Homo sapiens: one gene and its partner. The protein of the gene in region 2 purifies or fractionates together with the protein of the main gene of each other region. This does not show direct contact. Each region holds a gene or a part of one and is shown on either strand. Other genes may lie near its edges.

Region 1 (4,684 bases), on a different chromosome or scaffold from region 2:
CCTAGAGTCAAGGCCAAAGTGCCCTACCCAGCCAACACCGTAGATAAATCTTCAAGAAATGTCATCCCCTATGAAAGCAAATTCAAAAAACTGGAGCAACTGTTATATCAGATGCACAAATGATCAATGTAAGGACACAAGAAGCATGAAAAAATAAGGAAATATGGTATCTCCAAAGGCACACCATAATTATCCAGCAACAGATTCTCATCAAAAAGAAATTTAAGAAATACCCCCCAAAAAAGAATTCAAAATATTGATTTTAAAGAAGCTCAGTAAGACACAACAGAATACTGAAAAATAATGCAAAGAAACCAGAAAAGCAATTCAGGAAATAAATGAGAAATTTACCAAAGAGATAGATGTCATAAAAAAAGAGACCAAACAGAAATTCTACAACTGAAGAATTCATTGAATTAAATAAAAAATACATTCTAAAGTTTCAACAACAGACTAGATGAAGCAAAAGAATCTCAGAACTTGAAGAGAGGTATTTTGAAATAACTCAGACAAAAATAAATTAAAAGGATAAAAAAAGAATGAGCAAAGCCTATATAACATCATAAAGTGACCAAGTATTTGAATTTAGGATCTGAGAAGGTGAAGAGAAAATGAAGGAGTTAGAAAACCTATTTAACAAAACAATAGATAAAAACTTCCCAAGTCTTGCAAAAAACTTTAGATATCCAGAAACAAGAGGCTCAAAGTTCTCCATATAGATACAATTCAAAAAGTTCTTCTGCTCAGCACATTATAGTCAAAATATCAGAGGTGAAAGACACAGAGAAAACTCAAAAAAGCAAGAGAAAAGCATCAAGTCACTTATAAAGGTACGTCTGTCAGACTAGACTAACAGCAGAAACCTTATAGACTAGGAAAGAATGGGCTGATATATTCAAGATGCTGAAAGGAAAAAAAACTGCCAACCAAGGATACCATACCCAGAAAAGTTATTCTTTATAAAATGAAAGAGAAATGAAGTCTTTCCCAGACAAGCAAAAGCTGAGGGAATTTATCACCACTAGACCAGATCTATAAGAAATGCCAAGGGAGTCCTACACCCAAAAGTGAAAGAACAATATCTAATATCATTAAAACACATGAAATATAAAAACTACTAGAGCAAACATACAAAGAAGGAAAAGACTAGAAGGTTACCACTACAGAAAAACCACAAAACCACAATAATAAAAAATAAGAGAGTAAGAAAGGAACAGAGGATACACAAAACAACTAGAAATCAGTTAATAAAATAAGAAGAATAAGCTCTCACATATCAATAATAACCCGGAATGTAAACAAATTAAAACTTTCACTTAAAAATACAGACTGGCTGAATGGGTTAAAAAACATGACCTGACTATACACTGCTTACCATACTCATCTCACCTGTAAAGCCATATACTAACTGAAATTAAAGGATGGGAAAAGAACTTCCATGCAAACAAAAATCAAAAGTGAGCATGAGTGGCTATGCTTATATCAGGTGAAACATACCTTAAGTATAAAACACTAAAAAGTGACAAAGAATGTCATTATGTAATAATAAAGGGATCAACTCAGCAAGAGCTGCATATATATTTAGAAATACAACAATTCTAAATACATATGCACTCAACACCAAAACACCCAGATCTATAAAGCAATTATTATTAGATCTAAAGGGAGTGATAGACTCCAACACAGTAATAGGAACGTTAATAGCCCACTCTCAGCATTAGACAGGTCATCTAAACAGAAAATTAACAAAGAAACATTGGATTTAAATTACACATTAGACTAAATGGACCTAACAGACATTTACAGAACATTTCATCCAACAGCTACAGAATATACATTCCTCTCATCAGCACATGAAACATTCCTTAGGACAGCCCATATGTGAGGACACAAAACAAGTCTCAACAAATTTTAAAAAATCGAAATCATATCAAGTATCTTCTCAGACCACAATGAAATAAAACTGGAAACCAATAACAAGAGGAACTTTGGAAACTGCACAAATACATGAAAATTAAACAACATACTCCTGAATGACCAATGGGTCAAGAAAGAAATTAAAGAGGAAAAAAAAATTCTGAAATAAAATGGAAACATAACATATCAAAACCTATAGGGTACAGTAAAAGCAGTGCTAACAGGAAAGTTTATAGCAACAAACACCTACATCAAAAAGTAGAAAGATTTCAAATAAATGATCTAATAATTCACCTAAAAAAAACTAGAAGAACAAGAAAAACCACACCCAAAATTAGTAGGAGAAAAGAAATAATAAAGATCAGAGCAACACTAAACAAAACAGAGACAAAAAAAATACAAAGGATCAATAAAAGGAAGTTAGTTTTTTGAAAAGATTAACAAACTTGATAAACAACTTGCTAGAATAACCAAGAAAAAAAGAGAATACCCACATAAAATCAAAAATGAAAAAATAGACAAGTATAACTGATATCAAAGAAATGCAACAGATTATCAGGGACTATTATGAACAACAATACACTCACAAACTAGAAAACCTAGAGGAAATAGATAAATTCCTTGACTCATACAACCTACCAAGACTGAATCAAGAAGAACTAAAAAACCTGAATAGACCAACAATCAGTAATGAGATTGAATCAGTAATAAAAAGTCTCCCCCAACATAGAAAGTCCAAGACTTGGGGCTTCACTGCTGAATTCCCATGTGACTGTCTTCTTACGTGATGTTCAGATAGAGTCTACATTCCCTCTTGAATCTAGTGGGCTTGTGACCACAGTGAAAGACTAAGTCATAAAAGGCTGTACAGTTGCCACCTGGCCTCTTGGTTCCCTCTTGGGACCTGCCACCATGCTGTGACAAAGTCAAGCAGCCACACAGAGAGGCTATGATCCTACCACAGCACCAGGCAAGGTCCCTGCCAAGAGCCAACATCAACTGCCAGCCATAACTTCAAGGAAACAAGGCTTCATATTCTTCCAACCACCCACTTTGGAGTTGTCCCCACCAAATTTCAGACTTGTGAGCAAAAGAAATTTGTCATTGCGTTAAGCTACTCTGTATGGAGATGGTTTGTTACCAAGAATAGACAGCCAGAACAATGGGCAAAGCCCCCAATACTGGACCCATTTCCTGGCATAGAATAGAACTGGCCTAAAAAGAAATGGGACTTGCTTCTCTGCCTTTCATGAATTTTCATTATTTGGGTTGATTCTTTATTAACATTAGACTTTCTCTCTGAGTCCCAGATTAGGCTGTCTATAAGATATATCCCAGCTGAAATTGTGTGTGAGTGTGTGTGAATGCACACTATATGATGGTTGAATTGTTGCCAGTATTTAGTAATTAGATTTTTATTTAAACACACACACACACACTCACAGAGAGAGAGAGAGAGAGAGAGACAGAAAGAAAGAAAGAAAGAAAGAAAGAAAGAAAGAAAGAAAGAAAGAAAGAAAGAAAGAAAGAAAAAGAAAGAGTAAAGAGAATCTAAATTTTGTCTTCTCTCAAAATAAAAGAACAAACAGAAGATCTGGCAATACTGAATTTACATTCCTTTTTAACAGTAATTCACTCACAAAACCCCCAGTTCCCTCAGTGCCATCTCCTCTCTGTTGCATTACATCCTGCCTGTTCCATTCAAGCTCTCATCACTCTTTTTTCTCATTTTTTAATTTATATAAATGTATGCGTTACAAGTGCAGATTCTTTACACACAGAGATTGCATAGTGGTGAAGTCAGGGCTTTTAGTGTATCCATAACCCAAATAACATACATTGTAACAAATAAGTAATTTCTATTCCTCCACACCTTCCCACTCCTTCACCCTTTTGAGTCTCTATTGTCTATCATTCCACACTCCACATCCTTGTGTACACATTATTTATCTCCCACTTATAAGTGAGAACATGCAGTATTTATCTTTCTGCATCTAGCTTGTTTCACTTAAGTTAATGGCCTCCAGTCACTCTTAGATTTATTTCCTGACATCTATAGACATTTGGACTTGTGACATCTATTAAGCCAATGATTCTCTACCTGATCGATAAAAATTTACACTTACATAGTTCTCAAGGAGTTAACACCCTTTTGAAAGAAGAGTTTAATATAATTAGGAAAATAAAAGTCAGAAAAATTTTTAAAAACTAAAGTTTTAGTTTAAAATTAAATTTAAAAGGATAAAATAAAATACATGCCAAAAAGCCACATGATGAGGTGACTAGGATAGCAACTTAGGTTATTATCATACACCCTGGTGTAATTGTCCAACTCTTAGTGGCTGCTGTGCATTTATTGATGCCCCGGGAGCCAATGTTTTTTGTGTCATTGTTCTATATAAATGTTGTTCTCGCCGGGAGCAAAATTACACAAAACATGAAGTCTACTAATAGAATCAAATATGCTACATTTAAGAATCCTATTTATGGCCTGGCGTGGTGGCTCACGCCTGTAATCCCAGCACTTTAGGAGGCCGAGGCAGGTGGATCACCTGAGGTCAGGAGTTTGAGACCAGCCTGGCCAGCCTGGTGAAACCCGGTCCCTACTAAAATACAAAAATCAGCCTGGCATGGTGACAGGCGCCTGTAATCCCAGCTACTCGGGAGGCTGAGGCACGAGAATCACTTGAACCTGAGAGGTGAGGTTGCAGTGAGCCGAGATTGCACCAGTGCAATCTAGCCTGGGCAATAAAGAGAGACTTTGTCA
Region 2 (5,387 bases):
GGGCAGAGGCCAGGCCCAGAGCTCCCTCCCCAGGCTCTGCAGCTTCCACATCGGCCACTGCTGGGCAGCCTCGGGGCTCCAGAGCAGCCTCAGCTCCTCCAATGACTGGGCAGGCCTCTGAGCATCCTTGGTGAGTGGGTGGGGGGGAGTAGACCGAGTGGGGACAGGTGCAGGGGGCGATGGGCCGAGCTGACACCTGAGGGAGCCGGAGGGAGGCCTCGCTGTGGAAAGGCCGAGGAGGACCCTCACTCGGGCTGGCAGGTGCAGGAATGGTAAAACAAAGGACTTCCCGAATGTCCCAGGAATTTTGGGTGGGCAGACTCTGAGGTGCCAACCTCGTGCCTGACCCTGGGGGGGTCTCCCTGGCTGTGTGGGATGGGAAGGGCCAGAGCAGATGTACCCTCGAACCCCGGGAACCCAGGACTCTGGGCTTGTCCAGTGCCCTCCTAAAGGCTCACTCACCCTAGTGTTCGAGAACGCAGCTTCCTGCAGAGACCAAGAAAAACCCAGGGATTAGAAGGCGCCCTAGACCAGGGCCCAGACCCCATCGCAGCCCAGGGCTCAGAGCCCCAGACCCCATCGCAGCCCAGAGCGCGGAGCCCCAGACCCCATCGCAGCCCAGAGCGCGGAGCCCCAGACCCCATCGCAGCCCAGAGCGCGGAGCCCCAGACCCCATCGCAGCCCAGAGCGCGGAGCCCCAGACCCCATCGCAGCCCAGAGCGCGGAGCCCCAGACCCCATCGCAGCCCAGAGCGCGGAGCCCCAGACCCCATCGCAGCCCAGAGCGCGGAGCCCCAGACCGCATCGCAGCCCAGAGTGCAGACCCTCCAACGACGAGGATGCTAAGCAGGGCCCAGAGCCCCTGCGAGGAGACTCGGGGCACACGGGGAATGCGGGGGACATGGGAGGACATGGGGGTCATGGGACACTGGAGATCACACAGAGACACAGGGGAACACGGGGTACTGGGCACAGCCGTCCTCACCCGTCTGCAGGGGCATGAAAATGTCCTCCTCCGAGAGTCCCTTGTGCTGCACCAATTTCTTAAATTCTTCCAGGGCCTCCAGGTTGGTATTAGGATTCCTACCTGCAGGTGAGGTGGCCAGGTGAGCCAAGGTGGGGACAGCGGCACGGCCCTGCAGGGAGCAGATGCTAAAAGGAGACGACCACGGCCCAGCATCAGGACGGGGGAGAGGCCCGAGAGTGGATCAGAGCTCAGGGGTGGGGCTGGGGACAGAAGAGATGGCAACTGTCCAGCACCAGGCAAGGGGGAGAGGAGGCCTGAGAATGGACAAGAGCTCAGGGGTGGGACTGGGGACAGAGGAGACGGCCACCGCCCAGGTGAGAGGTCCCCAGGAAAGGGGACAGTGGCAGGGTCCAAGCCACTCAGCAACCCCAGGGGGACCTGGGCAGCTCCCAAAGCCACTCTGCAGGGTCATAACCCTCACCTGGAGGGACCTTGTGTCCCAGAGGCACTGGCTGCCCTGCCGCCCTGGAGAGTCCCTGCCCCATGAAGAGCTCTGTTAAGATGCTACCTCCCCCTTAAGGTGAGGCCCCTACACCTGAGACCCCACAAGCGGCCCTTGGCAGGTTCATGTCACCGAGGGCCGTGTCTGTCCCTGCCTGGCCCACCCCACTCCCACTTCAGGAACTTGGACCAGCCATCCAGGGCAGCGCTTGGTGCCTAGCACACGAAGGCCGGCGCAGGGGGCTTCCTTTTCCCCCCGTGCCAGGGCGTGATGATGGTGGTTCCACTGGCTTCTGGAGGCAGAGACCATGGGGCAGGACATGCAGGCCCCAGCGGGCCCCTCACCCACAAGCTTTCCCATGTAGCGCAGGCCCCCACGGCGCTGGTCTTTGCAGTAAAAGACGTAGTCGTCCGTCCCGGGCAGCTCCTGCAGGTATATGAGCTTCCTGCCCCCATCTGTAGATGACAGAGAAGATGGGTCTTCAGTGCCCTCATTCCCGGAGAGAGCACTCAGGACCACACGAAGAAACACTCAGGAATGTTTCAGTGGTCACCCAGGTGCCCTGGACAGCCTGAGCCAGGCCTGGCTGCTCCGCACAGCATGGACCCGGACACGGAGGCAGGAGCCTCCTCTCGGAAGGTCCCAATGCAAGTAATGGAGCCACAAGGCCAGAGCACGTCCAGGACTAGAGTCCGGCCTTCCCAGCTCCAGCAGCTGCTCCTGCCCCACTTCCCTGTCCCTAACCCTCGGATTCCTGATCCCAAACCCTCAGCCTTGGCTTCCCATCCCTAACCCTCGGCCTCCTGGTCCCTAACACTCGGATTCCTCAATGTGTCAATGGCTAGGGCCTCCCAGAGGGCAGGCTTGATCTGGTCCATCTCTACTGTGGACAAGCCTGTCACACCTGGTGTCTGATGTCAGGGCCACCAGCCCCCCAGGAAGGAGAGGCCAGCCCCTCCTTGGAGGTGGGCAGGGCTGGGACCCTGGCAGAAGTGTGGCCTGGGCACTCTCCACCTGCAGTGGGGCTGGTGCATCCGGGGTTGGGCATGGGGAGTGGGGGGTCGGGGAGGGGCTCACAGGCGCTGAATTTGCCAGGCTCCTCCGTCTTCCGCATCAGGATTTTCTTCTGGATGCACCGATCCTCCCTCCTGGAAAACAGGAGACACTCGGGCAGCGGCTCCCAGGACACACCTGGCCCATCCTCAGCTCACCTGGTGCATGGCCCTGACCCGGCAACCTGAAAATTCCACTGCCCCCCCACCCCACCGAGCTTCAGGATGTCCTGGCTGTTTCCCTCCAAGGCAGGGGGTGACTCTTCCCAACACCCGAAATGTGGATGGGGCAATGGGCACCAGGTGGGTCTGGGGCGGGGAGCGAAAGTGGCCTGAGGGGCCCTGCAGTGGGCAACACTCACATGAAGGTGAACGTGGCTTCCAAGTTCCCACCGCCCAGGGCTGTCACCTTCACTGGGGACACCTTCCTGGGCCTCCTGTCCTCCGGAAAGTCCTTATCGACCACCATGGCCTTCACGTACCAGGTCCCTGTGATCTGGAGCAGGCCAAGGCCGTGAGCCCACCATGGGTGGCCCAGATTCTACTCTGACCCTGGCACTCAGGCCTGCAGCTATAACCAGACACCCATGGTGCCCGGCTGCCACCCCTAAAGGCAGGCTGGGTTCCTGCACCTTAGTTAGAGCTCAGCTGGAGTGAGTTAGAGCCAGCCCCCTGCTCAGGGCTCCCAGCCCCCAGTGGAAGGAGGGCATGTCTGCACCCCATGGACCCCCGGGCCCCAGCACCAGGTGAGCCCTCCCTCCACAGGGCCCAACCCTGCGAGACCTTCGGGCTTCAGGCGTCAGTGCAGCAGGAACCCCTGAGCCGAGCCTGCTCCGGCCCTGGGCCTCGGGGGGCCGTGTCTGCTGGAGGAACAATAGGACCCCTCCACCACCACCCCAGGCTGGGAGCACGGGGTCAGAAGCCAGCCTTCAGTGACACCTCCTAAAGCAGGGCCCCTGGCACTGCCCCCTGCCCAGGAGTCCACCTGGCTCCTCCATCCGCCCACGCCAACCCAGCTCACATCCTCCTCCTCCAGGGTGAAGGACAGGGCAGCGGCCAGGCCGAGCGTGACACCCAGGAACAGGGTCTTCATCTCCAGAGCTCTGTGCTGCCGACCTCGGCAGGTCACTGGGCGTCTGAACAAGGCTGTGCTGGCTCCTCTCGAGATGTTCTTTATAGCCCCCTGGCCAGTGTCCTGGGAGCACGTGGCACGGTGCACCCCTCCCCATGGTGGCAACCAGTCCTGCATCCGGGAGGGGGAGTGTCCTCATTGCTGGCATCTGGTGAACAGCAATTCAGTGCCAGCCAGAGAAGAAAAGACACACGATGCTGTCCAGGGTTTGCATCCAAATGCGCCCACTTGGATGAGCCCGGAGGACTCCAGAGGACAGGGCAGGGTAGTGCACGTCTGCACCCCGAGCCACAGAGGGAGGGCCCACGGCTCGGAATTCTTCCTCCCTCACCCCTGAGCCCTCCCAGGGCCACGGCTGGGACCCTGGGCAAGTCCTCTGGGGAACTGGCCATCTCCCTGCTGAGCAGAAATGGACTGGGCTTTAGAACCATAGAGACGTGGGGCTGCTGCCAGCTGAGTCCCGCACGCCCTAGAGCCCAAGCTTCCGCCCACTCTGGGACCCACTCTGCATTGATTTTCCCCACCTGGACCCTGCACTCGAGCTTCCTAGGGGCAGAGAAGGGCACTATTGTGTGGTTCAAGGTCAGTATATATACGGCCTCCTCGGGCCATATGAGGGACCCCGCCGCCTGCCCCACCCCGCTTCACTCCGTACCGGAGCCTGGCTGTGCTGTCCTCAGAACACGTGATCTCTCTGGATTGTCCTGCCTGTTTCTTCCTGCACGTGTTCATCATCCATCTCCCTGTTAAATACAAGTGGTAGAGTGGAATATACATTCACTCTACATCCCCTCTCTCGTCAGCTTCGACGGCCCCCAGCCACCGGGACAGGCCTTGAATCTCATCCCTTTAGATAAATGGGTGGCATGAGCATCAAGAGCCACCTGCCAGCCTGTGCTCAGAGTTTGTGGCTGAGCTCCCTTGGGCACCTGGCTCCGCTGGCCTCATCCCCAGCCAACCTGAGCCAGAACTTTGCCTTCTCCCTCCTGGACCCTGTAGTTCCCGGGCCTGCGTCATCTGCCCTGGGACCCAAGGCTGACCCACGCTCTGCAGGCAGGTGCTGGGCCCACACAATCTTTGTGCCTCTCTGGCCCAAGATCAGACACCCTCAAGTGCTTGCTAAATAATACTAATGCACACTCTAATAAACCCTGGGGGCTATAAAGAAAGGGCTGGCGTGACCCAGTGCCTCACCCCTCTCACGGCAAGTGCTGCCGAGCAGAAACCCCATCCTTAGGGCGGGGACTGGGCTCTTCAGGACCAGAGATGAGCAAACAGGCTGGAGTCTCTACCTCAACGGGAAGATTTCTCCGTTCCCCATTTTTGTTGCCTGTACCCCAGGCACCTTGTATTTCTTTTTTTTTTTTTTTTTTTTTTTTTGAGACGGAATCTCGCTCTGTCGCCCAGGCTGGAGTGCAGTGGCGGGATCTCGGCTCACTGCAAGCTCCGCCTCCCGGGTTCACGCCATTCTCCTGCCTCAGCCTCCCAAGTAGCTGGGACTACAGGCGCCCGCCACTACGCCCGGCTAATTTTTTTTTGTATTTTTAGTAGAGACGGGGTTTCACCGTTTTAGCCGGGATGGTCTCGATCTCCTGACCTTGTGATCCGCCCGCCTCGGCCTCCCAAAGTGCTGGGATTACAGGCGTGAGCCACCGCGCCCAGCCGGCACCTTGTATTTCATTGGTTGGTTGTGAATCATTGATTTAAGCACCGTATGACACTGGTGCTGCTGGCT

What was found. The genes of interacting proteins can lie anywhere in the genome.
Region 1: the proteins of OBP2A (region 2) and MOXD1 purify together in Homo sapiens (affinity purification with mass spectrometry, with the first as the bait; one large-scale study listed by BioGRID). This does not show direct contact.

Annotation. Positions count from the first base shown.
Region 1 is NC_000006.12:132,394,253-132,398,936, forward strand, and holds part of MOXD1 (DBH-like monooxygenase protein 1 precursor), read right to left. Parts: intron 1-4,684.
Region 2 is NC_000009.12:135,544,407-135,549,793, reverse strand, and holds the start of OBP2A (odorant-binding protein 2a isoform alpha precursor), read right to left. Parts: upstream 3,669-5,387; 5' UTR 3,614-3,668; coding exon 3,542-3,613; intron 3,017-3,541; coding exon 2,883-3,016; intron 2,617-2,882; coding exon 2,546-2,616; intron 1,924-2,545; coding exon 1,813-1,923; intron 1,152-1,812; coding exon of another isoform or gene 1,087-1,151; coding exon 985-1,086; intron 487-984; coding exon 464-486; coding exon of another isoform or gene 463-463; intron 1-462. UniProt on the Homo sapiens protein: Binds and transports small hydrophobic volatile molecules with a higher affinity for aldehydes and large fatty acids, including undecanal, palmitic acid, efficient aldehydes, benzenic aldehydes, heterocyclic aldehydes and aliphatic acids.